Homo sapiens: one gene and its partners. The gene in region 2 interacts genetically with the main gene of each other region. Each region holds a gene or a part of one and is shown on either strand. Other genes may lie near its edges. The genes, in order: STRAP, SMAD2 and SNW1.

What was found.
Region 1: of SMAD2 (region 2) and STRAP, changing one suppresses a phenotype caused by changing the other (phenotypic suppression), as found in Homo sapiens cells (one study listed by BioGRID).
Region 3: of SMAD2 (region 2) and SNW1, changing one enhances a phenotype caused by changing the other (phenotypic enhancement), as found in Homo sapiens cells (one study listed by BioGRID).

Annotation. Positions count from the first base shown.
Region 1 is NC_000012.12:15,888,421-15,899,447, reverse strand, and holds part of STRAP (serine-threonine kinase receptor-associated protein), read right to left. Parts: intron 9,521-11,027; coding exon 9,439-9,520; intron 8,852-9,438; coding exon 8,779-8,851; intron 5,402-8,778; coding exon 5,305-5,401; intron 4,090-5,304; coding exon 3,952-4,089; intron 1,567-3,951; coding exon 1,430-1,566; intron 1-1,429. UniProt on the Homo sapiens protein: The SMN complex catalyzes the assembly of small nuclear ribonucleoproteins (snRNPs), the building blocks of the spliceosome, and thereby plays an important role in the splicing of cellular pre-mRNAs.
Region 2 is NC_000018.10:47,863,180-47,874,206, reverse strand, and holds part of SMAD2 (mothers against decapentaplegic homolog 2), read left to right. Parts: intron 1-3,642; coding exon 3,643-3,732; intron 3,733-4,770; coding exon 4,771-4,964; intron 4,965-5,749; coding exon 5,750-5,884; intron 5,885-9,073; coding exon 9,074-9,148; intron 9,149-10,105; coding exon of another isoform or gene 10,106-10,167; exon of another isoform or gene 10,168-11,027. UniProt on the Homo sapiens protein: Receptor-regulated SMAD (R-SMAD) that is an intracellular signal transducer and transcriptional modulator activated by TGF-beta (transforming growth factor) and activin type 1 receptor kinases.
Region 3 is NC_000014.9:77,714,403-77,724,487, reverse strand, and holds the end of SNW1 (SNW domain-containing protein 1), read left to right. Parts: intron 1-1,210; coding exon 1,211-1,307; intron 1,308-3,659; coding exon 3,660-3,777; intron 3,778-5,957; coding exon 5,958-6,121; coding exon of another isoform or gene 6,122-6,201; coding exon 6,202-6,400; coding exon of another isoform or gene 6,401-6,425; 3' UTR 6,426-6,889; downstream 6,890-10,085. Other genes in the region: SLIRP (SRA stem-loop-interacting RNA-binding protein, mitochondrial isoform 1 precursor), read right to left, coding at 6,927-6,992, 8,609-8,716. UniProt on the Homo sapiens protein: Involved in pre-mRNA splicing as component of the spliceosome. As a component of the minor spliceosome, involved in the splicing of U12-type introns in pre-mRNAs.

The DNA of each region.
Region 1 (11,027 bases), on a different chromosome or scaffold from region 2:
GTCCACTAATTATTCTGTCACACAGAAAGGTGAGATATAGATCAACAATGATCCATAAATATTTTAATCCATGGAACCTAATGAGAAAATGTATAGATTAGGAGCACTGTTATATTCAAGTAGTACCTTTAAGTATGAACCTTTCTCATTTACTTTCTAATGCCTCATCACCTTATTAGTTCTCAAAGCCCTTTACTAGACCAATGTTCCTATTCTGTCTCCCATCTGTGTCCCACCAGAGAATAGAAAAGTTGTAAGAGTACAAAGAACACAAGGTTTTGGAAAGAGAAAGGCTAGGCAGATCTGGTATTCACTGTGACTTCAGATCTTGGGCAAATAATTCAGTTCTCTCAATCTTGAAAAAGAATAAAATATGAAACCAAAAACATTCTAAAACTTTGAAAACTAGCATTAAATAAAAGTAACAGAAAAGAATATCTTATTTATAAATCACTTGTATTCAAGTAATAAAAACTGAACCATAAGCAATTAAAATAGATTCTACATGGTCCATCACCAAGGTTCCATTTGTGCAACCCAGATGCATCAATGTTCCCCAAGAAACAAAACGTAAAATTGTCTTTTGTTCTTTGGGTGTAATCTAGCAAGCTTCGTTCTTTGGTAAAGCAGGGCAGCTAGAAACAGACAAGAACAAGAAGAGACAGCTTATAGATAAAAATATATATTTATAAAAACTAAACATATTTTTGACCTAAAAGCAAAAACTATTTGGAAAGGCTAAAAGTAGATACTGAGAACCACATGTAACTATGTGAAATACCTGGTCCATCAGATAAATATACATTAACTTCAAATTAATCCCCATGCCTTTCCCTTTCCCTTACTAAGGACTGTTATCATGAAAATGAAAGCAAAACTCAAACTCCAAAACAGAATAAATAAAAAGCTGATAAAAATAACTATCCAATTCAGATTCCTAAAGGTATCCCTGTAATATGCTATACTGATTTTTCCCCCACACACTGTTCTTTACGGAGTCTTAGGAATTCCTAAGTTGGCAAAAAGGAAGACGGGCCAAGTAGATGGGGTTATACACCCACAACATAGTTCAGAAAGAACGGATCTCCTTGCATGTGTTTAGCATATGACTTTGACATAAGATTCCCCCCTCCCTCCCAGCCAATAAAGCCTAAAACTCACTGTACCATAATACATAACATCAGCATAATGATGAACTTTAGTTAAAAGGATAAATTTCTGCATACTTTGTTTACAGATCTATAAAAGCATCTGACCCAAATGGTTAAAACTCCTTTACTTTTTCACTTGTAAGCACCAAGCTTAAGTTAGCTGAAAAATTTACTTTCAACATATATATGTAACATATATATATATATAAATGAGGTGTTAATTACTGGGACTTAACATATGATAAAGGTAACCACATCACTGTAAGGGGACAACTCACCTAATTCTTCTCCACTATTATAATCATACTTATAAAGTTTAAAATCTTCACCGCCTGCAACAAGAAATTCTTTCTCAGGATGAAGAGATGCAGAATTGATGGTTGCAGGAGCTTCAAAGGATTTAATTGGGTCCAAACTGAAAAAAAATTTAAGTAGTATTTACAAATCTTGAATATGGTATAAATAACGAGTTACATTTGAACTGTTCTTAAATTCTGAAACCCAAGGAACAATTAAATACTCATTTACTCAAACATAAACACTGATGTAAAAAAAGCTGTTAGCAAAAAAAAAAAAAAAAAAATCAAATGGATACTATGCCCAAGTGGAGCTCATCTCAGCAATACAAAGACATCTTGATGGAGGGATATCCAGTTTATGCAGTGGATGTCTTCCCGGAAATGAGTGTGTTGGCTAATTAAAACAGTATGAATAATACACTGGGATTTTTGCTCTTAAATAAACTTCACCTGTATTGTTTCATTTTTCTACAACCACATATTATCTTTGTAAACAGAAAAAGTTTTCACAGTAGGTAATTAACATAAAGGATTATTTATATATTATTATTAATTGCTGAAGGTTTAAGCTCCTCAGCAAGATAAACTTTCTATGTCATAAAATATAAACTGCTGAAAACAGTTTCTACTATAAGGCAGTAAAAGACTAACAAAATTTGGGGCTATAGTTATATAATAAAAATCAATGCATAATAACAGCTTCATCTGAAATTCAATTACAGTTTGGACATTAGCTTTTTCAGTTTAACCCTAAAAATCATGAAAGGCCTCCAATACAAAACATTATAGTATCCCAGCTCCTAAATACTTCCCATCATCATATACTTTAAAGCATGTTAATTAAAGTTAGTCATGACTTATGCAGGATCACTACATAGCAACTTGCTGGCTCAAATGCTAGAATATTCAATGGTCCAGAAAATTTCTGCCACCAACATGGGATTTGCCTAACTGCAGGAGTGAGTGAAGAGCATTAATAAACCAATTGATGGCTCCAGGCCATAGTATTCTACTACTATCAGTTTACTGTATGTGTATAAACTCCTTGACATTGCTTAATTGCTCTCCTCCAATTTTACCGCCTTTTCTTTCTCCCAGTTAGCCCTTTAGACACAAGGTTAAGACACTGGTCAAATATCAAAGTGTAATGTGGTATAATCCTTATGGAAATCAATTAAGTGTCATGTATAACTAAGAACTTTAAACTCATTTCTAGCCTTTGAACTGATAATTCTACTTACAGGATCCTATCTACTGTAAAGAAACACTCAGAGATGTGCTAGAACATTCACCGTGGTGCTAAAACAGGGAAACTAACCCATAATTTAGTACAACCTATGATGCAAATACAGTGTATCAAGTAAAAATGTTTTCAAAGAAGTTTTAAATGGCTAACAATATTTTTAAACAAATCAAAATGGTATTCATTATGGTCCTAGTAATTAAAAAAAAAAACACAAATACTGTACACCCACATATATAACATAGAAAAATGGACTAGCAGAAAATATAACTACCATTATCACTCTTGCACCTATGGGTATAATATTGTGGGTACATTTTTTTCAATTATGTTATATATTCCAGTCTTTCTCCAAGAGTATTTACTACATTTAAAGTCGCAAAATTCAAATCTGTTTAAAAAATTCATTAAGTCTGCAAATACTCAGGAACAGAAATAAGATTATTCCTTCTCTAAAACTTTAAGGTGAAAATAAATAGTAGAATCAAGATCACACTGTTTTTTTGTTTTTTGTTTTTTTTGAGACAGAGTCTCACTCTGTTACCCAGGCTGGAATGCAGTGGTGTGACCACAGCTCAAAACAACCTCCACCTCCTGGGATTAAGCAATTCTCCTGCCTCAGCCTCCCAAGTAGCTGGGATTACAGGTACTCACCACCACACCCAGCTAATTTTTCTTCTCTTTGTATTTTTATTTTAGAGACGGGGTTTCACCATGTTGGCCAGGCTGGTCTCAATCCCCTAACCTCAAGTGGTCCGCCCACCTCAGCCTCCCAAGGTGCTAGGATTACAGACGTGAGCCACCACGCCCAGCCCACACTGGTTTTATATAGTAAAAAACATTAATGACAGCACCATTTCAGTAGTTTTTGCTTTTTTTTTTTTTTTTTTTTCAGAGGAGGTTTTGCTTTGTCATCCAGACTGGAGTGCAGTGTCAAGATCACAGCAAAATGCAGCCTCAACCTCCCAGGCTCCAGCAATAGAATACTCACCTCAGCCTCCCAAGCAGCTGGACTACAGGCGTGTGCCACCACACCCAGCTAATTTTATTTTTTGTAGAGATGGGGGTCTCACTGTGTTGCCCAGGCTGATCTCAAGCCATCCTCCCACCTCAGCTTCCCAAGGTACTGCGATTATAGGCATAAGCCACCACTCCTGGCCTCTTTACTTTTAAAAAAAGTAAATACCTTCCCATTTTTAAGTAGCCAAAATGTCTTTTGTTACCTAAAAAAGAAAATGAAAGTATTTCTTGGACATACCTTACTGCACTATGAAAAGCAATAGATCGTCCATAAGTTATAACCAAAATCTCTCCCTCAGGAATATATTCCATACTACTAACAGACATATTAAAATTTAGAGATTTCACTTCTGTCATAGTAGCATGATCCCAAAGTCTGCAAAATAAAGATAAAAATATGATGTTTACTCATGTAAGAAAAAAGTTTATAAATTCTAATTACATCTGCAGATTAGCCAACGAAAGAACAATCACAATTACAGAAAAACAACATTCATTCCAAGTCACAAATTACAGATGATTAAAAAAAATTCTGGGTTTCTATATACAATGTCAAATTATGCATGATAGCTTGTAAGTAAAATCAACTTTAATACCTACATACACTTCCCAATTTGGCAAAACTACATTATTAAGACAAGTTCTAATCTAGTCAATTTCAGCATTGCTATAAATAGTGGTTCTTACACTCTGTTTTTGTGAATCTAGTAATAGCTACACATCTTTCCAAAGAAATATACATCAGGTGTCAGCACACAAGATTTTGTATAGAATTTCAGAGGCTTCATGGTCCCTCCCTTTAACCATTCTGCCCACAGACCCAGGTTAAAAACACCTGCTTATAAGGTATCAGCAATTTAATTTTCTTCTGAATTTTGCTGTCTGTATACACAAGGTGAGCATCCCTTAATTGAAAATACTTGGGACCAGAAAAAAGTTGGATTTCAAACTTTTTCGGATTTTGGAATATTTGCATTAGACACTTACCAACTGAGAATTCCTAACCTGAAAATAGGAAATTCAAAATGCTCCAATGAGCATTTCCTTTAAGCATCAAGTCGGCACTCAAAGTCTCAGATTTCAGAGCGTTTCAAATTTCAGATTTTCAGGTTAGGGATACTCAACCTGTATTAGTAAATAGATAGCTCCAGATAAATGTGACCTGGGTGCAACTTAAATTTTAATGTTCAGAACATTTTTCACACATAATATTAAATGTATTTAAAATATAAGCTCTAAGGTAAAATATTTTGCAAATTTTAAGTTTGTTTTTCTTTTGAGACAGTCTAGCTCTGTCGCCCAGGCTAGAGTGCAATGGCACGATCTCGACTCACCGCAACCTCTGCCTCGCAGGTTCAAGTGATTCTCCTGCCTCGGCCTCCCGAGTAGCTGGGATTATAGGTGTGTGCCACCGCGCTTGGCTAAGTTTTGTAATTTTCATAGAGACAGTATTTCGCCATGTCGGCCAGGCTGGTCTAGTACTCCTGACCTCTAATGATCCACCCGGCTCGCCTCCCAAAGTGCTGAGATTATAGGCGTGAGCCACCATGCCCGGCCTTAAATTGTAAATTATTAAAGAAAAATTACTTACCGAACAGTTTTGTCATCAGCAGAAAGAATCTGTTTATCCTCACTGCACCACAGAGCTTTTTTTATACCAGAAGTATGACCACTAATTTCCTTAGGTTCTTGAGATAAAACAATTTAAAGTACATTTGTTAATATATGATTTTTTAAACTGAACAATATCGGAACAATTATATATTTTTAAAAACACACATTTTAAATTAGACTGCAACTTTTCAAAGCCCAGCCCAATTCAAACTTGATGTTTATATAGAATACAGTTAGTTTTTCTATATTGGAACATAAATTTATCTGCATGACAGGGACCCAAGGAACTACCATGCTTGCTATATGTAGCTGAGTGAATGCACCACTCACTCCCTCTAGGCTAAATTTCTGCACAACTGATAATATTCAAAAGCATTATTGTATAATAAATAAAAAGTATTTTATATTTATTATATGTATAATAAATATAAAAGCATTATTGTATAATTGTATAAGTATAATAAATATAAAAGCATTATTGTATAATATACAATATTTATTTGTACAATAATACAAATATTATTGTATAATATAAAAGCATTATTGTATAATTGTATAAGTATAATAAATATAAAAGCATTATTGTATAATAAATAAAAAGTATATATTTATTATATGTATAATAAAAAGAATTTTATATATAATAAAAAGTATATATTTATTATATGTATAATAAATAAAAAGTATTTTATATATAATAAAAAGTATTTATTATATTATTAATAAAATAATTAACGTGGCATAATTTAATAAGAACACGGACTCAGGAACAAAACAGTTGAATCTGATTGCAGTACTATGGCTAACTCTGGGACGTTTATCCAAGCAGCTATTGATAGTAAATAATGAGAAATAAGGGTTGGAAGGAAAAAAGGGAAATAGAAAGTGGGACAGCAATTCCCAAGAATGTTTCTACACTGTGAGGAAAACATAAAAAAAAAGGAAGGGAGCTTAAATCTGTAGGAGATTATCCTTTCGAAGAACTTCAAAAAACCCTCACTGCTGTCTCTAGGGGCAAAAGCAGACACTGGAGGCAATGCCATTCAACACTATTTTCACCTTTGGGCATGTTACTTAACTTTTTAACTTTATTTCCTCATCTGTAAAATGAGATAACAATGGTTACAAATGCGAATAGGGCTTAACAGATACCCGATACACAGTAAAACCTCATTTTATTTTCTGCTGCCAGCACAGCGAAAGAGCAACTTTCATAAAACAGCTTTGGGAAAGGTAAAGAGCATGAAAAATGTCAACCCAATCCCTGAACTACCTTGCTTTGACCCAATCCCTGAACTACCTTGCTTTGTTGAATGGGTTCATAGAAGAAGTGAGGTCAGAGTCCTTTGCTATGTTTTGGCATAGATTTATCAAAAAAGAAAGGAGAAAAAAACTTCTACATGCAATGGAGAATAAAAAAATCTGCAAATGCGCTTTGTTTCCTCACCTTAAAAATGTTTTCATAACAAATTACTGTAACATTAAAATGTAAAATATTTTAAAAAGTTCTCAGAAATGGAAGGTATCTCAAGAGAATAACCGCTTAATTTCCAATGTGGTTCTGACTCTCTTATTACTCTTTAAAATTTTATAGATTTATGACTACATAAATGTCCACATAATAAAATCTGAAAGATACCAAATATATAATAAAACAAAATTATGTTTGTCATGTTTTGGTAGCTAAGTATATATATGGTGAGGGAAATTATTAAAATATTATAAAATAAACATGTAGACTGGGGAAGACACCTATAACTTCTGTAAAATGAGAGAATGCATAAAGAATTTCACCACCAAAATGTTAAAAACATATATACCATAAAACCACCTTAACAAAATTTAAAAGCAAATGATAAATTAGAATTCAATAAAGAACCTTTAAAAACCAGTAAGAAAAACATGAATAACACAACAGATAAATGGACAAAAGGTAGACAGGCAATTATTCCATAAAAAAGGGAATATATTAAAATGGTATTCAATAGCATTTTAATCTCATGAATATTCACATTAATACAACAGAATTATTTTCTTAAATTGACAAAGAGAAAGTTAGTTATCAGTGCTCACTAGAACATGTTGGGTATAGATACATACATATATACCCATACTTTGTTGGAAGACACTTTGGTAGTATCTATCAATGGCTTCCAACAATTCATTTTTTTTTTTTCTTTTTGAGAAGGAGTTTTGCTCTTGTCCCCCAGGCTGGTATGCAATCTCGGCTCACTGCAACCTCTACCTCCCGGGTTCAAGCGATTCTCCTGCCTCACCCTCCTGAGTACCTGGGAATTACAGGCGCCTGCCACCATGCCCAGCTAATTTTTTTGTACTTTTAGTAGAGATGGGGTTTCACCATGTTGGCCAGGCTGGTATTGAACTCCTGACCTCAGGTGATCCACTCACCTTGGCCTCCCAAAGCACTGGGATTACAGGCGTGAGCCACTGCGCCCGGCCACCTTCCAACAATTCCACTCCTCTTTGTCCCACCAATTCTACTTTTGCTTAGTTATCTTAAGGAAATCATTGTGAAAATATTTGCAACTGTAAGGATGTTTAGCATAATACTGCTTTTCATATTTAAAATCTGTAAGTAGCCCAAACGGGCCAAAACAGGAAACTAGTTAATTCACTTATGATATAACCACAGGATGGAAAACCAGAAAGTCATTACAAACAGTTCATAGACTATTTAGTGAAATGAAAAAACTGTAACTGCAGATTTTTTAAAATTCTTTCGAATAGCTAATATATTTACATGGTTCAAAAATCTAAGCAATATGTGCACACAACTGAGAATTCTCACCATCACCAACTTCTATAAATAACCAATCTTTCTTACCAAAAAATAGTAACACTGTTCTGCACTGTTTTAAAACTTAATGATAAAAATTTGCCATAATAAATTTTCAGTTTGGAAGAAGGTTATACAATAGCAACATAGCAAATAAACTTATTTTTTAAAAACTGTGCAGAAAAAAAGACTGAAAGTTTATAAACCAAAAACTGATGAATTACGTTTTAATTTTCTTCTTTGTTGACTATTTTTTTTTTTTTGAAACTGAGTTTCACTCTTATTGCCCAGGCTGGAGTGCAGTGGCGCAATCTCGGCTCACTGCAACCTCCACCTCCCGGGTTCAAGCGATTCTCCTGCCTCAGCCTCCCAAGTAGCTGGGATTACAAGCGCCTGCCACCATGCCTGGCTAATTTTTCTATTTTTAATAGAGACGGGGTTTTGCCATGTTGGCCAGGCTGGTCTCGAACTCCTGACCTCAAGTGATCCACCCGCCTCAGTCTCCCAAAGTGCTAGGATTACAGGTATGAGCCACCGTGCCCGGCCATGACTATCTTTATTTTCCAAATTTGAGTACTGAGCATGAAATTCTTTAATCAGTTATTTAAATTAAAAGAAAATAAAACTAGAAGCTGATGTTTAAATTATGCTTACCTGCTTCAGGTTTGTTCAAGTCATATATGCGTAACAGTTTATCCTGTCCCCCGGTTAACAAATAATTACTATCCTGAAAACACAAAGTAAAATGTGAATAGATTAACCATTTTAATAGTTATTTCTCTTTCAAATTTCAACACCAAATAAAATCAAAATCTAGCTCACAGACATCACAAAGAGATGCCAAGACATAACCAATTACTTCTGAGAAGATACTGTGGAACAGCTGACCTCTCATAACTGCCAAGACTTGTAAGCTTTCCACTTCAAAAGCGTTACACTACACTACATATACATGAACTCTCCCATTCTCCCCTGATCCTACTCCTCTCCCTTGTGAGAGGCCCTTTTCTGATTATCTCAAATTTATCTTCTCCCTTCTATTAGTAGTTGGGGAAGGCTACTTGAGCTTTTCAGATGTTTTTTACATGTTGAAGGACTGGTACTCGTTCCACAGTATCTTAAAAGCTTGACAGGATTAACTATGAAACAAATTCATAGAGCTTAATACACAATCAAATCAAATATGAACCAAGAAATAACAAATATTCCACACAAAACATATCAATCAAATATACACACCAATCAAGTATAAAAGCATTATCACACTATGTACCAGCAACTTAACTCGCTAAAATAAATTCCATTTTCTGATACCTGCGTGAAATCCACAGTCTTGACAATGTGTTTATGAGCCAGGGTCATCAATTCATCTCCTGAGACAGCATCCCACACTTTGCTAAAAGTAAAAAAGAGAAAATTAGTAGGATAAATATTACCCAATATATTAAAAGGATAAATACAATTATAATATTGATGAGTACCAAATAAGTTAGATATGTGAAATGTTACATAAATGTATTATAAATCTCCTTTATCTCTAATATCCCTCACAGACTTCATTTGATAAAATATTTAAATAAGCTTAAGGGAAAAGAAATTTCTCTGTAAAAACTTTATAACCAATCTAATTTTCTTTGACAGTGGAAAAGATATGAACAATTTAAGCAAGTAAGATTCATGAACCAACCCATCCTCCTTACTTTTATTTTAGCTGACAGCCATAATATCCCTTTAGCAAGCCTGTCATACATTTTAACCAATTTTTAGTTTCACCATGCCAATTTTTTCTCTATTCTCCACTCAGATGCACAATAAAAAATAAAAATAAATAAAAAAACCAGAAATCCTTAAAAATGTTACAAGGGAATGAAAAGCCTTGGTACAGGCTAAGTAAAATTTTAAATTAAGATAGTGGAGAGACAATGTCCACTTCATCTCTTCTTCAAAGCTGACTTAAAATTTCAAACTCTAGTACAGTTAACTTCCCCCAAACTATCAGCCTTTGATTATATAATGCTAACACTGACTATTTTAATCTTTACATTGTTTTTTCTGTCCCACCCCACCCCAAAATACAAGTTGGTTATAGGTATACATACATTTATATGTGTATGTATATTCTGGGCGGGTAATAGTTGAGCAATACTTTACAAAATTACTCTAAAAGGGTTCCCCCAAATAAAAAAGCTTAAGGAAGGGGGAAAAAAAAGTTGATTTTAGATCAGAACAGGTCAGTGAAAAATAAACAAGAAAACTTTGCAGACAGGGAAAAGAATTGCTAAGAGTGAAAAAGCTATGTTCCATAGAGATTTCCATTTTAATGCAACTGCTATTTATTTTCAGGAACACAGTGGGCAATAAAATGGTAGAGGGAAAAAAATCAGAGAAAAGCAAGATGTATCTTTTCTTTTGCTTACCCCAATACATAATAAAATATATTAAATATATATCATTCTATACTTAGTGCTAAGGCACAAATGGGAGACAAAAAATACCCCACAGTAGGTTCTTGCCATAGTAGAGCTTTAGCTGAGGAGAAAAACATGCATTAAATATCACATTTAAGAAATATAATTAAAAGACATATATATGGCTATAAAAACTCAGAAAAAAGCACCTAGATATTGTCCAGAAAATGTAAGTAACAGAGCTAGCCGTCGGAAGAAGCAAAGAGAAATATATCAGGGGAAAAAGAAGGGAAGGCTATTCTAGATAAGCATTAATAGCATGTGCAATGTGGTTAATGAATATGAAAGACCATCTAACAGGAATGCTCATGATACACTACCAAAGCTTGCAATATTTAATAATGTGGGTCATGTGAGTGGCTGAATAAATATGTTCTGAAAGAAATAATGTCAACTATAAGTAGCCTTGCTGCTAAACTCCCTAGTATTCATTTC
Region 2 (11,027 bases):
ACATTTTATATCAGCTTGTCAGTTGCTACAAAAATATTTTTGCTGAAATGGTCACTGTAATAGATATAAAACAAATAGGCAACAATCATTAGGGAATTAGGTCAGATGGACATCTTAATATTGACTCATCTGTGAATATGCTGTATCTCTATATACTTAGCTTTTAAAAAATATCTTTGAGCAAAGTTGAGTTTGGGCAGAGTTCACAGTCACATTGTTGATGTTTTTCCCTTGTGCCTCTTTCTTTACAGGGTATCTTCCTTCTTTTTTCAAACTCTCTGGCAGCCCCAAATGTGTCCTCTGATTCTAGGTCAGTAAAACTGCAGTTTTCTAAAAACAACCCCCCTGCAGTGTTCTGTTTGAATTCTAGTTGCCCTGCCTAGCTGTGGCTGGGGAGTGCCCTTGGGTACACAGCCACAGAAATGCAGCTCTCATCCAGTACAGTTTGCAGCTTTGACAGTTGGACCTCCCTTCAGCTTTTGTCTGTTTTTGATCTGTGTCTGCTATTTTCAAATAGTTGATTATTTTGTTCAGAGTTTATCATTGTTATATGAAGGAAAGTTAGCCTAATTGAGGCTGCTCTGCCATTACTGGAATTAGAACCTCCATTCTGTTTTGTGTATTCTTTTACTAATTGCATACTGTTTTAATTATTGAGAATTTATTATGTGCTTCAGAATCTGGTAGGACAGGTCTTTACTATTTGTTAGAATTTTCTGGTCATACTTATTTGTTTTGGCTTATTACAGTATTTGGACTAATACCTGGATTTTTAAAACATTTATTTTTATTGAGATTGCATCAAATATATAAATTTGGTAGAGTTAATACCTCTATGATGGTATCTTCCTGTGTAGGGACGTATGTTTTTCTTTTTTGCTCAGTGCACTTTTGTGTTCTTTAGTTATGTTTAAAATGTTTCTTTGTATAGTTTGACACAGTTTTAATTACATTTATCTAGATGCTGCTTATACAACTCTCACTATCTAAGGGGGATTGGTTCTAGGATTTCCCACTCATACCAGAATTAGTGGATGCTCAAGTTCTGATAAAAAATGGCATTGTAAGCCTGGGCACGTTGACTTACTTCTGTAATCCCAGCATTTTGGGAGGCTGAGGTGAGAGGATCACTTGAGTCCAGGACTCAAGAGACTTTGTCTCTACAAAAAGTGTTAAAATTAGCCAATCGTGGTGACACACGCCTATAGTCCCAGCTACTCAGGAGGCTGAGGCTGGAGAACTACTTGAGGCTGGGAGGTCAAGGCCGCAGTAAGCCTTATTTTAAAAATAAAATGGCATTGTATTTGCATATAACCTATGCACATTTTCTCATACTTTAAATCGGCTGTTCCCAACCGTTTTGGCACCAGGAGACAGAGTCATGAAAGGCAAGTTTTCCACTGACCGTGGTGGTGCGGCAATGGTTTTGGGATAAAGACGTTCCACCTCAGTCATCAGGCATTAGTTAGATTCTCTTAAGGAGTGCCCAGCCTAAAGCCCTCGCATGTGCAGTTCACAATAGGGTTCTTGCTCCTATGAGAATCTAATGCCACTGCTGATCTTCCAGGAGGCAGAGCTCAGGTGGTAATGGTCTCTCCCCTGCTGCTCACCTTCTGCTGTGTGTCCTGGTTCCTAACAGGCCGTGGACCGGTATCAGTCTGTGGCCTCTGAGACTCCTGCTTTAAGTCATCTCTATATTATGCATAATATGTAATACATTGTAAATGCTGTGTAAATAGTTGTTATACCATATTGTTTTTAAATTTTGTATTTTTCAATTGTTGTATTTTTTAGTTTTAAAAATTTACTTATTTTTTCTACTTTTTGATCCACGGTTGGTTGAATCCAAGGATGTGGAACCCTTGGATACAGAGGGCTCTATGTTTTATTATAAATTGGCTTATTTTAAAAAATATTTTTTATTATGTAAACAGGCAATGATTTTACTAGCTAGAAGCAAATTTAATGTTTTAAAATAAACCTTCCAATTTTGTTAGGCATGATAATGATGGAACTGAGGCTTAAATATACCCTATGGCAGCAGTTGGAAAGTGGCCGAATTAGGGTTGGGGTCTAGATCTGTCTGCCTCTAGATTGATTGCAAGTTCTTAACAATTACTGTTTATTCTTCTCTGATTCCTTTCAAGGATTAAATAAAGTACAATGTAAACTTCATGCTCTATTTTAGATTCTGGTTCTCATGTGAGTCCCAGAATAACTTGAGTGAAATGTTCTGATACAGAGCAGAATAGCCTCTTGTGCTACACTTTTGTTAATTATTTTCAAAGAATAGTCTCCTGTATACCATTTCTTTAATAGACTCAGAAGTCTGTAGAATTGAGGTGATTCTGTTGTGATTTAAACTACATCATGCTATATGTTTCCAATAGATATTTGAAAATATCTTTTAAATAAACCATTAATGTCATGGTTTTTAAATCAGTATATCTTTGGAAAAAAGGGAAAGGTCTAAGCCTTAATTTACCTGGCTTTTTCTGGCTTTTATAGTCTGGTAAATTTTGCAGCCTGAAAAAGCAAGAGAATCTATAAAATACTTGAATGAGATGCTGGAAAATTTCAGAACAGGTTTTGTTTTGAACTGTCGGGTCACTGTAGCCCCCAAAGCAGGGCATGATGTGTTCCTGCAGCCTGATAGCTATGTGACAGCACCTGTAGTACTAAAGCCAAGGATGCCAGGTGGTTCTGTTGCCTGGCCACAGGAAGCCAGCGCTTCTCACCATTGCCCTTTGAACTGTTGATCCAGTTAAGCTCACTAACAATGTGTAAATATGAAATTTAATCAATTGCTTGATTCATTTTCAAAAGATGTTTTGAAATACTCCTTTATCCGCATTGAAGTTTTGATGATTTTGTAATATGTAAGAAATGGACTTTTCAGAAAAGTACAACTTAGTACTTGAGACATTGGCTGTCAAAGTTCCATTCCAAAACTTCCTTTTAAGCTCTCTTTCCCTTCTCTCACTGACCAGAAGTTACTATGAAATGAAATAAAGGTAGGGAAAAAGGGAGAATTATCTCTGAGCTGCCCATATTCTGGAGAGAAATGTGGGAGAAAATTTTTAAGGTGGTATACTAAATTAGAATGACTTCAAAGTCTATTTCTTTATTTATTCTAGAGATGAGAACAAAATAATTTTCAGTAAAACTTAAAAATATCATGACCAGATAACCTGAAAATCTTAACTGTGGATGCATGTCTATTTTTATTGGGATTTTTTTCTATATTAAAAATCAGTTGACATCTGTTTTTAGATAATTTTTTAAAAAACTGGATTATAAAATGAAGCACTTAGTAAAGCTGATGGCAGAGGTTTTAGATCTTTTGAATACAGGAAAGTGGTAAGGGCATTATAGGTATGATTCATTGAGCTAGAGGGCGTTGGTGTTCACATTTTAAAAACATAATCATGACTTATCTGGAGTCACATGTTCCATTTTATTGGCTTCCTTCATATAGAAAATATAGTAACCAGCACTACATGCCTGTGAAAAAGTGAAGCAATTGTATATTTTCTGGGTGAAGGAAGTATTCTGTACATTCTCCATGTTTTACATCATGGTATTTTGAATAACCATGCTTCCATGTTCACATCAATTTTTTGTTTTTCAATTTATGCACAGCACTTGCTCTGAAATTTGGGGACTGAGTACACCAAATACGATAGATCAGTGGGATACAACAGGCCTTTACAGCTTCTCTGAACAAACCAGGTGAATATTCTGCCCTCTGTCGAATCTTAGAGATCTTGTGGGAGGGGGGTATATTTTGAAAGACCTATATGGGGTTGCTTAGTATAATTTTGCCTAGGATGTTTCCTTAATGTAAAATAAGGCATAGCATTTAAAATATCTGCTTGCCAGTATAAAAAATATATTAAATGTTTCAGCTGATGTTTTAATCAATGCAATTCTAGTTTGAATCTTCTTTAAATTACTGTATCCCCTAAAGAATAATAATTTTGATAACTATATATTTATTTTAGCTTGAGATCAGATTATAATCTGTTGTTGGCCTAATTTTTAAGTAGATACATGATGAGTTTTGCTAAATTTCTTGTTATCAGAATCTCATCTTTATACTAATAAATACATACTTAATGAACCCCTTATATCACAATTAACAGTAGGTTAACTCATTTTTATGTTACTTTTTTTAATCACTTCATTTTCTTTTTTGCGTATATGGTATTTGTTCATTTCATCTCATCATATTCATCACCATCCACATTTATTTGTGAACTACATAAATATACCTCAGTTCTCAAAACAGTCACAACTGGGTAAAGAGTTGCAGTAGTCTGAGGAAGTTACTATCACATCATTGTTGGTATTTATCATTCTTCACACTAGTTCCTTTTCTGACTCTTCAGTCACCTCCAGAATTAATATCCTTAGAAGCATCTCTAAAATGAGTTTGATTTACTAAACATAGAAGTTGACAAAGTTTTTCAAGTATAACTGCATAAACTCTCTTTTTTAAAAAATCAGTTTTTCCCAAGTTGTTAGCCTTTCATTGGCATTTGAGTCATTTATGTGACATATTTATAAGAAACATCTGCTAGTGCTGCTGCATACTTTTATCAGATCCATTAAATAGTACATTTTTGTTCTTGATTCTCACTAAAACTAACTAAATGGCTGTCATTCTTTTCTTTATGCTTTTATTGTACTAATTTAGCCCATTTGACTGCACTTTTTTTTTTTTTTTTTTAAAGTTCCCTCCTTTCTTTTCCCCTTGCTTCCCAACAGGTCTCTTGATGGTCGTCTCCAGGTATCCCATCGAAAAGGATTGCCACATGTTATATATTGCCGATTATGGCGCTGGCCTGATCTTCACAGTCATCATGAACTCAAGGCAATTGAAAACTGCGAATATGCTTTTAATCTTAAAAAGGATGAAGTATGTGTAAACCCTTACCACTATCAGAGAGTTGAGACACCAGGTAGGAATATTGCAAGTTTTTTTCTTGGTTTTGAATTAAATGCCTGAACTTCAGTATATTTAAGTACTCTTGTGACCCAGGAAAATTTTAGTGTAAATTCTAATAAATTACCTTAAATTGTGCATATTATTTGGTGGTAATTAAAATTTTTTTATTTTTAAAAATTTTTAATGAGAAAACATATCTGTTTCTTGGAATAGCATATGATTTGGCATGAAAGTGCATATCCAGGAAATCCTGTAGATTGGCAGTCTGCTCAGCGCTATGCTGATGTGCTTCTACATGTCCCTGCTGCAGTAACATTTTCAAGCATTTTGCACTTGGAGTGCTTTTAGAAGTACTTTAATGACATCATTTGTATGTACACCGTTTAGTAAAGCTTGTAACAAGACTTTTCATTTAGTTAGCTGTCTACCTGAAACTATTAAAAAATATAGCAGTAGCTGCGTTTTTGGAAAATTTCCTATATCTGATTTTACAGATAAAGACAATGTTAAGTTTTCCAATGGGGATTTATGAACTTTTATGGTAATATAATATTACCAGGATCACATTGTTCCCAAAAGTTTGAGATAAATTAGAACTTGGAAATTTGGATAATAGACTACCTAAGTTAGAGCCATAATCAGATTTGTCATTTTCTCAGTAACTAGTATATATCGAGTAGGTGGACCCTAGCTTTAAAAATTAAGCTACAACTTCTCTTCTTGTTGAAAACTTTAAAAAAGGTTCCCCCACTCCCCTTTGCTCTTTGCCATTAACTTGGATTTCTTGAACTTTTTCAGTTTTGCCTCCAGTATTAGTGCCCCGACACACCGAGATCCTAACAGAACTTCCGCCTCTGGATGACTATACTCACTCCATTCCAGAAAACACTAACTTCCCAGCAGGAATTGAGCCACAGAGTAATTATATTCCAGGTATTTTTGCCTTCTGAATCTCCTAAAACTTGGATAGATACAAATTTTGTTCATAAGCATTCAAGTTTTAGTAAATTGTGGTTTCACTTTTTTAAAAATGCTTTTGAGTTTTTAATAGAAAAATTGGATTCGTTGGGTGATTATTTTGTGAAATGTATAAGCCTAGTACATTAAACAGTTTTGTTTGGAGAAGAGTTTTACTTTATATTTCATTTTCTTTTGCAGTGACTTTAATCAAAGTACTGTGAGAAGCAGAAAAGAAAAGATCTTAGTAAGTTTGTCTTAGTTGTTGAAGCTAAGCGAGATGCAGAATGTAAGCAAAACAAATGGTGTAGGAGAAAAGTACCCCCCAAACACATGTAACTGAATATCCACCCAATGATCACTTTTTCTTAGATAACTTGGTAATATTTAACAGAAATATAACATTTCTATAAGAAATATAATACTTAGTTCTATAGACATAGCAACACTTACATATTATAACACGAACGTCAGAAAACCTCCTTTAATTATGTTTCGTCTGCATCTCAGTAATTTCTGATGAAAATTGAATTCAGCTACATGGTTCTCAAATTTTGTTCTGATGTATTATGTGATCCAGTAATACTCCACGATATGATATCTGGCCTTTTCGTTTTTTATGGTTTCTTTTTTTTTTTTTTGGAGAACAACTAATACTTTGTTACTTTTCTTGTATGTTTTCCTTTTTGTTTGGTTGATTTTTCTCCCTAGCAGAAACAGCATGATGTTAGGATGAGGATTAAGCTGTAGTGTCTCGATTTCTTTCTTCCTTTTGTAATATTCTTTTATTCCACTCTTATTTTATACACTAAAAATATGTAAGGAACTTAAGAGCATTTACAAAATTCTTAAAATACAGTTTTAGTACATTTAAACAATTATTTCTTTCATGTATCCATCATGGAAATAATGCTTATTCATTGAAGATAATTTTTTAAATGTAAGGAAGAAAAAAAAGAAAAGATAACTAAGAAAGATAAGTTTTTTTTTTAAATAGCTGGTTTTACAAATGGGAAGTGGTTTTTGATTGTTTTAATGTATATTTCTTTGATTACTGTTTTATTCCAGAAGAGGATTTAAAGCTGCTTTATGGGTTGCTAGGAAATACAAACTTACTGAAGTTAAGAGAGGGAGAGGGTGGGATGTAGTATGATAACACTAGGAGGAGGGAAAACCCGGGACTATGAAACAGGGCAATTGCTAGGTAGAAAAGGGAGTGGAGTTGTGTGAACGTTGGTGTGGGGAAGGGGAGGCATTTTAAGTCGTTAGTGTGGGAATTACTGTTATTCAGCCAGCAATACTAACCTTAGGTATAAACATGCAGTCTTAGGGACAACACGCATATCCAGTAATTATTTGGAAGGCTATTCACCAGAATGTTTAGTGGCTTTCACTTGTGAAGATGTTTGGGCTCATTTTTCCTTTCTTTTTTATTCCTTTAATTATTGAGATTTGAGTATTTTATAAAGTAGAAAATCAGAAGTGGATTATACCCATTTGCTTTTCTGGACAGTGGGGCTTTATCCGGTTTCAAGCAACAGCAAAACCAAAGGGTTCACATTTTATTCCACTTAAAAGAAATTTTAACATTTTCTCAAAAATGCTAATAGCTTTATTATTTATTACAATAATGGAAAAAATAAACACAGTAAGATAACGTATTTTAAGGTTCAGCATTTCTTTCTGATTAGATCTTTGAAATACAGGTTAAACTCAAAAAGCTTAGCGCCGTTTAACTTTATTAGCTTTAACTTTTAAAATATGCATAATATGTACCCTTATTTTTATGTTCTTTGAGTATATGAAGATAATTTATTCTTAGAATTTTTGTTTTAAAAATTTGGGGGTACTGACACTTAAATGAAAAGTTTGATACTTAAAGTTTGTGGTTAGTTTATTGAATAGATATTGTAAAAGGTTATTGAAGGAGACCCTTAACCTGTATCTTCTCTTCCTCTTTTTTTTTTTTTTTTTTTTTTTTTGAGACGGTGTTTTGCTCTTGTTGCCCAGGCTGGAGTACAATGGTGTGATCTCGGCTCACCGCAGCCTCCACCTCCTGGGTTCAAATGATTCTCCTGCCTCAGCCTCCCTAGTAACTGGAATTATAGGGATGCACCACCATGCCCGGCTAATTTTGTGTTTTTAGTAGAGATGGGGTTTCTCCATGTTTGTCAGGCTGGTCTCGAACTCCCCACCTCAGGTGATCTGCCTGCCTCGGCCTCCCAAAGTGCTGGGATTACAGGCATAAGCCACCGCGCCTGGCCTCGTTCTTTTGATAATTTTAAAATTGTTTGGATATGTGTCTTTGTTATCTTGAATCGCTCAAAACTGTTCAGTGTAAATGTAAAACTGATGAAAGTCTTCTGAACTTATTTTTCCTCCCTGGAATTACAGTTGATTAAATTGTATACATGTTTTTATTTTACATGCAGTTTATTCAGCTATTCAGATACCTTTCTGAACATAAGTGTTTTATTCAGACAACATGTTGGAAATAATATATTAGAATCCTAATGGTTATTTTCAGGGAGCATTTTACCTCTTTATACAGTAGTCTATATTTGAATTGAATTTTCTGCTTCAAACACTTAGACTTTACCAGTTAGGAATCCTTGGAGAAACACACTTTTTAGATAGAATTCAGCCTGGACCAATCCGGAACCATACTCTACCATATTTTACCCTATAGAACTTAGTGTAAGTTGTAAGCCTGTATTATTTAATACTTTTATAATCCAAAATCTTGTGTGTTTTTTAATTTTCTAAGTACTCATAAAATAACGATGTTCATTAGATTAAACAACAACAACAAAAAATTGTAGTTACTGATGGTTTTGCAGCCTACTGATTCAGATCTGAGGCATTTTTAAAGTTACGTTTTTGGCTCTTGCCCCAGAATATGTACATATAGGAATGAGCAAGATACGTACATAATGTGTATGTCCAGAGAGTAGGATTTTATTAAAAGTGGATGTTAAGGATTCACTGCAAAATTTGGACAAGATCCTGAATTATACACCCTCAGTATGCAATATTACTTTTTATAATATTATATAACATTATTATTTGTTATTTGGAGTGATTCATTGGTTATCTCTGGTAGCTGAGAGAAAAGGTAGTGAGATTATGTTGCAGCTGTGCTTGATTTGTTTTAAACTTTTGTAGAAACGCCACCTCCTGGATATATCAGTGAAGATGGAGAAACAAGTGACCAACAGTTGAATCAAAGTATGGACACAGGTAAAAAAAATGTCTTTGAAAATTCCTCAGTTATTAGATATACATTTCTTGTATTGTTTGAAATTCACAAAAGATGTTACTCTTAAATTTAGAGAAGTTGAGACGCATACCAAAAAAGATGATCTTCTATCTTGATTTAACATATCTGAACTACCAAAGAGGTCCATGTTGTCACTGAAAAATTATAACGTATGCTACTCTGCAGAATAATTGTTATTTTTTATTAGAGTAAATGAAAATTTGAAAACATGCACATACTTTTATTTCTTTTTAAGTATTTGCTTCTGTTGAAAATTTTAGTAACCCTATGACTAAGTATCTCTCTGTGATAAAAAACCATAATTACTCAAATAACAGATTTTCAGAGGAATTTGGGGGTGAAGGATGGGGATCAGCTTTTCACTGCTTTTTTAACCTAATAGTGAGTTTTGAATTATAGTAGATTAATTTCTTATGCTTAGCTATCAACTCCAAAAAGTGATGAAGAAAAAAATTAAAGCTTTAAATCACGTCTTACGTAATAAAATGTATAACTCAGCAGAACTAATAAACTACCAGTGAAATCACTTTGATGTCATTGTAATTGTCCAGTTTGATTCATTTTACCTGTCTGTATCTTAACTGTTGGACACCTTAATATCACAACCTGACAAATTATACCATCAGTCTTTCTCCACATCTTAACACTAATGCATTCTTGGTTATGATAATCTAAATTATTTTTAAGTGGATTAACATTGGTGGGGGAGGGAGGGGTTACAATAATTCTCTTGTTTAAATCCGTTTTTTTGGACTCCCAGGTAAAGAAGTTTCTGCTGTAGCTAATCATACATTTGGGTGTTTAGGAGTACCAGATAACTAAGAAAGGTAGATAATCTAATGAACGTTGGAAATAACGTGTTATACATCTTAATGCAAATAATATTTGACTTTCCACATATGTTTTACTAAAATTAGATGACACTCTTCTTGAAGCAATAATATTCTTTTTTGCCTGTGATGGACAGCTGTTACTGTGACATTTAAAAGTGAATGATGGGAAAAGATACTGAACGTCATAAACCACAGTGAGATACTACCTCACACCTACTAGATGCTATAATCAAAAAAGGACAATAACAAATGTTGGTGAGGATGTGGAGAAATTGGAGTCCTCATATATCGCTAGTAGGAATGTTAAATGGTTCAACACTTTGGAAAAGTTTCCTGTTCCTCAAAAAGTTAAATACAGAGTTAACATATTGTGGCCAGCTATGTATCCAAGTGAACTGAAAACATGTCTACTCAAAAACTTGTACATGACCATTTATGCAGGCATTATTCTTAATATTCAAAGTTAGAAACAACTCAGATGTCCATCAAATGATGAATGGATGAATAAAATGAGGTATGTTTCTGCAATGGAATTATTCAACCATGTAAAGGAATGACAGTATAGCATGACGTGTGGCAACATGGATGGACCTTGAAAGCAGTATGTTAAGTGAAATAAGCCAGAAAAAAAAGGCTGCAGGGATTCTAATTTAGTGCACAGACACCTATTCAGCAATATAACTGAAACACAGGAGGAGCAATAATACAAGTATTCGTTATGTATGATAAATGAATCAAAGTACAAAAGTGGAGAATAAGCTGAATCAGCCAGCTAAAATAATTGCAGTGTTGGGGCTAACTTTGAACCCAACCTAATATTTCTGTTTCAGTGGAGCAGTGTTACTGGCTTTCTGAATGACAGGTTTAAAAATTACTGTATGGCAATGGGAATATGTGATTCATGAGATGCCAACAGTTAGTTTGGCTGCCAGCCTCTTACCCAATATCAGTTTCTCTCTTGGGGCCATGGCAAGAAACAATTCTGACTGATGCAGGGCTCCAATTT
Region 3 (10,085 bases), on a different chromosome or scaffold from region 2:
TGATGGTACAGAAATACAGTTAGAAAGAGTAAGTTCTAATGTTCCTAGTACAGTGGGGTGAATAGTTAGTGATAATTTATTGTATATTGCAAAATAGCTAGAAGAGAAGAATAGTTAATGATAATTTATTGTATATTGCAAAATAGCTAGAAGATTTAGAATGTTCCCAACACAAACAAATGTTTGAGGTGATGGATATCCTAATTACCCTGATTTGATTATTACACATTTTGTTCATGTATCAAATATATATACCCCATAAATATGTATAATGATTATATATCAAAAATAAATTTTAAAAGCAATTAACATTGATAAATTTGCTTTATCACATATTTGCCCATCTTTCTGTCCATCTGTCTGTCCGATTTACTGCATTGCATTTCAAAGTAAGTTGAAGACAGCAATACATTTTACCCTTAAATATTTTAGCCGCATGCTTGATTCTAGAATTCACATTCAAAAATTAAACTAATATCATTTATTAGACTTAAATTAATTGCAAGTAAGGTTTAAAAGGCTGAGTGTGACTACAAAGAAGTTTGGAATTTTCTAAGGTTAAAAAATATTCTCTTGTTCAGAATATTGGCTGGGTGCGGCAGATCACTTGAGGTCAGGAGTTTGAGACTAGCTTGGTGAAACTCCATCTCTACTAAAAATAAAAAATTAGCCCGGCATGGTGGTGCACACCTGTAATCCCAGCTACTTGGGAGGCTGAGGCAGGAGAATCGCTTGAACCCGGGAGGCAGAGGTTGCGGTGAGCTGAGATCGCGCCACTGCATTCCAGCCTGGGCAGCAAGAGCGAAACTCCGTCTCAAAACAAACAAAATACTAATGGGGCTGAGTGCAGTGGCTCACACCTGTGACTCCAGCACTTTGGGAGGCCTAGGTGGGAAGATCACTAGAGCCTGGAGTTTGAGACCAGCCTCGACAACATAAGTGGGACCCCATCTTTACAAAAAATTTAAAAATTAGCCAGGCATGGTGGCACACATCTGTGGTCCCAGGTACTCGGGAGGATGAGGCAGGAGGATCACTTGAATCCAGGAGGTAGTGGCTGCAGTGAACCATGTTCATGCTACTACACTCCAGCCTGGGTGACAGAGTGAGATGCTGTCTCTTTTTAAAAAATTATATATATACACACGTGTACACGTATGCACACATATAATACATATTACAGTGAAGTACTTTTCAACTGTTCACACAGAGGATGGGGAGGCACGTGAGAGGGATGAAATCCGGCATGACAGGCGAAAAGAGAGACAGCATGACCGGAATCTTTCCAGGGCAGCTCCTGATAAGAGGTAGGTGTTATTTAAGATGTGTACCAATCATGGTGGCCGGGCGCAGTGGTTCACCCCTGTAATCCCAGCACTTTGGGAGGCCAATGCGGGCGGATCACGAGGTCAGGAGATCGAGACCATCCTGGCTAACACGATGAAACCCTGTGTCTACTAAAAGTACAAAAAATTAGCCGGGCATGGTCGTGGCAGGCGCCTGTAGTCCCAGCTACTTGGCAGGCTGAGGCAGGAGAATGGCGTGAACCCGGGAGGTGGAGCTTGCAGTGAGCCGAGATCACGCCACTGCATTCCAGCCTGGGCGACAGAGCGAGACTCCATCTCACAAAAAAAAAAAAAAAAAAAAAAGATATGTACCAATCATGAAGAGTGGCCTTTTTGTACCTTTTAGAGCAGAGTTTTAGTCCACTAAGATCAGTTTTGCTTCTCTCCCTTTCTTCTTTAGTTTGATAACTTAATAAATTAGCACTTAATTTTCTTGTACTTAACTACTTTGTCTTAGCTCTAGTTGACTGTCTTTGGAATTAATCTTCCATCACTTAAGTCAGAATTGAGAATGATGGGAATATAGAAAACGGAATCGAGATCAGATTTTTGAAAAGGATGTAGTAGTAAATTTGGACTGTTATAGTCCGTTCTTTTTCTACCTCAAATGGTGAGATAAATGGATTATGTGCCTCTTTAGACAGGAAATAAGCTTTCATGCTTTTATTGAGATCATTTTATATGCATAGTACTGCATCTAGTACAATTGAGGAGAAGAGCAGTTTTGAAAGAAGTAGAAAATCAGCTCATTTTTAGGAGTAGTTTAACTTACAGTTCAGAAAGACAGAGCTATCCATAAAATAATTTGAGAAAATTTGCAAAGCACTCTTAGTAAGTATAAACGTATAGAACAAACTAAATATATATATGAGGGCATAGAGTAAAGTAGGAATTGGGGAAGTTTATGGCTCACCAAAGGCTGAGGACTAAAAGTTCTGAAAAGTAGAGGGAACGCTGCAATACTAAGGTGGAATTCTGAGTGAGGGTTAAATGCAAATATAGAATATTTTCTTCCCAAATGAACAGTTTTCTGTGCTCTGATCATCCCATGAGCCTAATACATTTTTCAAGTCATATTTTAAACACAAAAAAGAGGCCGGGCACAGTGGCTGACACCTGTAATCCCAGCACTTTGGCAGGCCAAAGCACGCGAATCACTTGAGGTCAGGAGTTCAAGACCAGCCTGGCCAACATGGTGAAACCCCATCTCTACTAAAAATGCAAAAATTAGCTGGGTGTGGTGGCACATGCCGGTAGTCCCAGCTACTCGAGAGGCCGAAGTGGGAGAATCACTTGAACCCTGGAGGCGGAGGTTTCAGGGAGCCAAGATCGTGCCACTGCATTCCAGCCTGGGCGACAGAGTGAGACTCCGTGTCATAAAAAATAAAAAATAAAAAAATAAAAATAAATAAGCATGAAAAAGATTCCTGCTGGTATTAATTGGCATATTTCATCTCCCTGGATAAATGATGTCATGGAGAAGCAAAGACTCTTACTCTTGAGAGTTGAGGGTAAAGTACATGTAGAAGGAGGAGCAAAGTGTGAAAGTGTTTAATTAATGACAGTCTTGGTTAGTAATTCCTAAGTTGTAAAAGTTACAATGGCTCTGTGGATAAATTGGGCCCTCAAAACGAGTAAAGTGGCTATCAGAATTGACAACATAGAAAAGCTGTGAAATTGTAACTGGATGAAAATCAAACAGCCTATAGAAATCATTTTGTGACCTGAGTTTTTAGTAAAACAAGTAATGACAGTTACCATGGTTTCATTGGGATGTAGGTTGCATATATAATGCAACAGCCAGGAAACCAAATTAATCTGAATGTCAAAAATCATACTAATTCAGTCATTGACATGTTTTCCTCAAAATTCTAGTGGGATAAAATTACTAAATGTGGTTAGATAAAAGAGCTGTTTCTAGCTTATTTAAAATGTTTCGTGTGCTACATCTAAATTGTATCCACTTCCCCAACCCCCAAACCATCATATAATGATAGTAAATATAGACCATAGCAATTTTATATCTCAGCATGGTTGTAAGGTGATTGCTTATATTAAAGAATTCCATGTCAACGAATCTGTTAGATGTTCTTTTGAGCTAACAGGACGTCCTAATTGTAAAACTCTCCCTCTAATCTGAAATGCTTTATAAGGGCTGCCAGCTTGATTATGTATCATCAAGGAATATATGTTCACAAGATGTGAATGTGACATATTCACATCCTTTGTTTCTGAGATTGGTTGTATTTCTATTGAACATATTCAGCTTGTCTATAAAGAGTTTTCAGTTAGTGATGTCGTATTTCAAAATAGGTCGAAACTTCAGAGAAATGAAAATCGGGATATCAGTGAAGTTATTGCTCTCGGTGTTCCTAATCCTCGGACTTCCAATGAAGTTCAGTATGACCAAAGGCTCTTCAACCAATCCAAGGTACAAGTTTAGGAACAGCATATTGTGTGTGTTGATGTGAATACCTATCCTCAGGGAAACGAAAATTAACATACTTTACATTTGGATGTAAATGCCAGCATGATGACAAAAAAATTGGAAGTTGTATGTTGAAACTTGAGACAAGATGAAACAGTTCTGATTTTAACTTCTTATAGTGGGCTGAGATTTGAGACACTAGGAGAAGAAAGAAATTAGGTGATTAAAAACTTGGTGTTGTGGTATGTCAACCTTTTGTTTCTAAAATAGAACCAGGGAGGCCAGGCATGGTGGCTTTTGCCTGTAATCCCAACACATTTGGAGGCCGAAGCGGGCAGATCACCTGAGGTCAGGAGTTCACAACCAGCCTGGCCAACATGGTGAAACCCCATCTCTACTAAAAATACGAAAACTAGCCAGGTGTGGTGGTGCACGCCTGTAATCCCCACTACTTGGGAGGCTGAGGCACGAGAATTGCTTGGTGAGCCAAGATTGTGCCACTGCACTCTAGCCTGGGTGACTGAGACTCTATCTCAAAAAAATAAAAGAGTCAGTGTCCTACAAAAGTGCCTCTTGGGTTTTTTTGTTGTTGATTTTTGGATTTTTCTTTTAATGCTATAGAAATATATCAATTTGGGATTCTTTTAAAAATGAAGCTGTAAAACGGGATTAAAGTACTAGGCTGGCTGTCAGGAAATCTGATTTCTAGTACCAATTGCCATTAGCTAACTAGGACACTTTAAGCCTGGGAAAACACACGCGGGCGCATGCGCACACACAAGAATACAGAAGTGTAAGTTCTACTGGAAAGTAGAGTGGGAAACTTAATTATGACTTGGAGGTTTTAAGTAAGCTCTTCTAAGTGATAATTTATTAGATGCATTTTATATTCTTGGCATTGTTCTAAGTCTTGTTATTATCTCAATTCTTACAAAAATCCTATGAAATAATACTATTATCTCTTATGTTATAGATGAGGAAATTGAAACACAGGTTTAGCTTGTGACTGATGGAATTAAGATTCAAACTGGGTGTCTTGATTTCAAAGTTTTTTTTGTTTGTTTTTGTTTTCTGATATGGAGTCCCACTCTGTCGCCCAGGCTGGAGTGCAGTGGTGCCATCTCGGCTCACTGCAACCTCCACCTCCCAGGTTCAAGGGATTCTCCTGCCTCAGCCTCCTGAGTAGCTGGGATTATCACAGGGCATGTGCCACCATGCCAGGCTAATTTTTGTATCCTTAGTAGAGACAGGGTTTCATCACGTTGGGTCAAGCGGGTCTTGAACTCCTGACCTCGTGATCCTCCTGCCTTGGCCTCCCAAAGTGCTGGGATTACAGGCGTGAGCCACTGTGCCCAGCCAATTTCAAAGCTTTCTTAACCACTATACAATGGCAACTTACCAGCTGAGCAAAGGGATCTAGGGGTGAAATTTCACGTAAGTAAATATTTTCAAGATAATCACCTGTTAGAAGCTTAAGCTTAAAACATTTAAAAATTGTGATGAAAATATTTCTGGCTGGGCACTGTGGCTCACGCCTGTAATCCTAACACTTTGTGAGACCTAGGCAGGCAGATTGCTTGAACCCAGTTTAAGACCGGCCTGGGCAATATGGCAAAACCCTGTCTACAAAAAATTAGCTGGACATGGTGGCACACACCTGTACTCCCAGCTACTTGGGAGGCTGAGGTGGGAGGAACACCTGAGCACAGGGAGGTCACAGCTCCAGTGAGCTATGTAGCACTTTGTGAGACCAAGGCAGGCGATCACCTGAGGTCAGGGGTTCAGGACCAGCCTGGCCAACATGGTGAAACTCTGTCTCTACTAAAAATACAAAAATTAGCTGGGTGTGGTGGCACATGCCTGTAATCCCAGCTACCTGGGAGGCGGAGGCAGGAGGATCACTGGAACTGGGAGGCGGTGGCTGCAGTGAGCCAAGATCACACCACTGCACTCCAGCCTGGGTGACAGAGTGAGACTCTGTCTGAAAAAAAAAAAAAAAAGAATCCAAAGTTGTTATGAAGTTCATGTGCTACCAGTTTTTTAATGAAGACTTTTTAATTTGCAGTTCAGATTGTTGAAAATGTGAGCTGTACATTAGCAAGGGTTTACTGTAAACATGTTATGATTCAGCTTTTGATAAACAATGTTTACACTTTTATTTAATGTCATCCATTTTTCCACAGGGTATGGACAGTGGATTTGCAGGTGGAGAAGATGAAATTTATAATGTTTATGATCAAGCCTGGAGAGGTGGTAAAGATATGGCCCAGAGTATTTATAGGCCCAGTAAAAATCTGGACAAGGACATGTATGGTGATGACCTAGAAGCCAGAATAAAGACCAACAGGTGCCAAGCCATACAACTCAATTTCAGTGTTTACACTGGTGAAAGCAAAGTAGTTCATAGTTTTTTCTCCTTTTCCTTAGATTTGTTCCCGACAAGGAGTTTTCTGGTTCAGACCGTAGACAGAGAGGCCGAGAAGGACCAGTGCAGTTTGAGGAAGATCCTTTTGGTTTGGACAAGTTTTTGGAAGAAGCCAAACAGCATGGTGGCTCTAAAAGACCCTCAGATAGCAGCCGCCCCAAGGAACACGAGCATGAAGGCAAGAAGAGGAGGAAGGAATAGGCACAGGTCTCTCCAAAGTGAATGAACTCTTACCCATAACCCTAATGATGCAAGTCATATGGGGGAACACTTTGTAAATGGTCAGGATAAAAACCAAATCTGGGTGCCAGATCCCAGCACTACTTTTTATTACTGGAGAAATGGGGGGGATAGAAAATTCTACTTTGAATTATTTAGTTTTTTTTAAAGAGTGGGTTGTGTTTGTGCTTCTCCCACCTTTCAGCATTTATAGAACATGCTGCCCCACATACAAAGTCAAGACCACTTACTTTTATGTGACACTAGTAGTTTGGGGTTAATGTTTTGTGTAAGAACAGCTGCATATGAGTAAAGTTACCCCAACCACAGTGAGGAGGAAGATGTTCACATACTGGAACTGTCCTGCCAAATAAATTTTGCCCCTATTGTGCTCTGTTTTAATTTGGAGTGGGCAAAGTAACCTCTTGCTTGGTGCAACTATTTGTTTCAAATAAAAACATTTAGACAAAATTCTCAGTTATGTTAACTTTATTAATAGGCTGCAGTCTCAAAAATCTTTCTTTTCATCATCAGATGTTTGCGGAAGTTTTGGCCTTCTAGTGTGAACCTGGACCTTAAAAAAATAAGCACTGTAAGGGAGGAAAGGCAATGTCTGCAAAAACATTCAAACTGAAAATCACTTTATTAGGGAGTCAGTATGAATAATGAATAACCCAGGCAGTTTTTATTTGTCCCTTGTTCTTTCGTTTTCTCCTCAAATTCCTTTTACCATCTTTGTTGGTATTATGACTCCCTAACCCTCAATTAAAAATTGTAAATCAGACCAGGGGCAGTGGCTCAGGCCTGTAATGCCAGCATTTTGGCAAGCTGAGGCAAGAGGATTGCTTGAGGCCAGGAGTTCAACACCACCCTGCAACATAGCAAGGCCCTGTCTCATTAAAACTAAAATTTAAAATAAAATAGTAAATCAGTTTGGCCCAGGATCACATGGTGGGTAAGCCAAGATTTCAGCCCCAGCTTGCCTGACCTGAAAAGCAGACTGCTGGCCAGGCGCTGTGGCTCACGCCTGTAATCCCAGCACTTTGGGAGGCCGAGGTGGGCGGATTGCCTGAGGTCAGGAGTTTGAGACCAGCCTGACCAACATGATGAAACCCAATCTCTACTAAAAATACAAAAAAAATTAGCAGTGCGTGGTGGCGCATGCCTGTAATCCCAGCTACTCGGGAGGTTGAGGCAGGAGAATCGCTTGAACCCAGGAGGCGGAGGTTGCAGTGATCCAAGATTGCACCATTGCACTCTAGCCTGGGCAACAAGAGCAAGACTCTCAAAAAGAAAAAAGAAAAGTAGACTGTTATGTCCACTGTGTTACATATCTTGCTACCCATTAAAGGGTCATCTTGTACTTTCCTGGACCTTTTAAAACTGGGCACTCTACCACCCCCCATTTTTTTTTTTTTTTTTTTTTTGAGATGGAGTTTTGCTCTTGTTGCCCAGGCTGGAGTGCAATGGCGCGATTTTAGTTCACTGCAACCTCTGTCTCTTGGGTTCTCCTGCCTCAGTCTCCTGAGTAGCTGGGACTACAGGCATGTGCCACCACGCCCATCTAATTTTTTTTGTATTTTTAGTAGAGATGGGGTTTCTCCATGTTGGTCAGGCTGGTCTCAAACTCCTGACCTCTGGTGATCCCCCCCGCCTCGGCCTCCCAAAGTGCTGGGATTATAGGCATGAACCACTGCGCCTGGCCTACCACCGCACCATTCTTTTTTTGTTGTTGTTTTGTTTGTTTGTTTGTTTGAGATGGAGTCTCGCTATCGCCCAGGCTGGAGTGCAGTGGCGCAATCTCGGCTCACTGCAGGCTCCACCCCCTGGGGTTCACGCCATTCTCCTGCCTCAGCCTCCCGAGTAGCTGGGACTACAGGCGCCCGCCACCTTGCCAGGCTAATTTTTTGTATTTTTAGTAGAGACGGGGTTTCACCGTGTTAGCCAGGATGGTCTCGATCTCCTGACCTTGTGATCCGCCCGCCTCGGCCTCCCAAAGTGCTGGGATTACAGGCGTGAGCCACCGTGCCCAGCCTCCACCCCACCATTCTTAACAAGCATTAAGGCAGCTTCAGTTACAAATCTCTCCAAGTCCCCATCATTCCACATTTATGATCTATTTAATTGATACATAATTAAATAGTACCTACATGTATATCATGTATGTATCTGGCATAGAAATAAATTTACCTTTACTCCATCTATAATATGATTTTCCTGTTGTAGTGCATTCCGAAGTCCTTCTTCTGAAGAAAACTGAACCCAACCCAAACCTCTGTGAAAGCCAGTCTCCTTGTCCTAAAAATTCAAAATATAGGAAAAGATTAATCATGAACTTCAGAAAGTTTCCATGAGTTCCAAATCAAACTACCAACTTTTTCATCTGCCAAAAATCGGACTTTTTAATTTAATTTTATTTTATTTTTAGGCAGGGTCTTGCTCTGTCACCCAGGCTGGGGTGCAGTGGTATGAACGCAACTCACTGCAGCCTCAACTTCCTGGGTTCAAGCAATCCTCCCACCTCAGCCTCTTCAGTAGCTGGGATCACAGGTACATACCACCATGTCTGCCTCATTTTTTATATTTTTTGCAGAGATGGGGTCTTCCCATCTTACCCAGGCCGGTCTCAAACTCCTGGGCTCAAGCAATCTTCCCATCTGGGCCTCCCAAAGTAGTGAAATTACAGGCATAAGCCACCATGCCCAGCCAAAAATCGGATCACAGACATTTATAAGTGTCAGTAACCTTGCTTTACACCCTTCCTGATTACCCAAGGCTAAATCCCTGTGTTGTTAAGCTTCCTGTTTTCCTTGCTGCCATTAGAGAAGATACGGGTCATGAGCTTTCTGTGTCATTCTAGATGCAAACCATACTAACAGTAATAGCTAAGGGAAATTTTGATCAGTACTCTTGTTCTAAGCTTCGTTTCTAGAAACTAGAAAATTAAGCCTCAAAGCCTTGTTGCACTCATTTCTGAATCCAGTCACCCTCACCACCACCACGACTATCATCACGTGTTCCTAATGAAAAACAAGAAAAGATAATATTTAGCCCTTACTCAACCTAGTTACAGACTTCTGGTTAATTTAAACAATTTTGCTATTTTCCCTTGTGCAAAAGTTTCAACCTATACATCGCATACGGAAAACAGATTCTAGAGTGCTTGGATGTACCCTGCCCCTCCAGCCCTTCGACAGAAAACAGATATTAAGATGTCTAGTCCCTGTAGATGACAAACTGGTCCTCATTAGTCTCATTCAAGTCATGCTGTGCTTTGCCAAAAAAAACAAAATCTTACAATTGCTCCTCTACTTCAAGGATAACTTTATAAGGATTAACCTAGAAGACGGAAAGTTTCTGGTGATGTCCCAATGATCCATTCATTGTAGATACAACAATTTCTAAAGCATTCCTTTATTGTCATGTGACCACTTCCACAGTCAAAGGCATTAAGAAATTTGTTTATATTAAAACATAGGCCAGGTGCAGTGGCTCAATCCCAGCACTTTGGGAGGCTGAGGTGGATGGATGGCTTGAGGTCAGGAGTTTGGGACCAGCCTGGCCAACATAGTGAAACTCCATCTCTACTAAAAATACAAAAATTAGCTGGGTGTGGTGGCCCATGCCTGTAGTCCCAGCTATCTGGGTGACTGAGGAAGGGGGATCA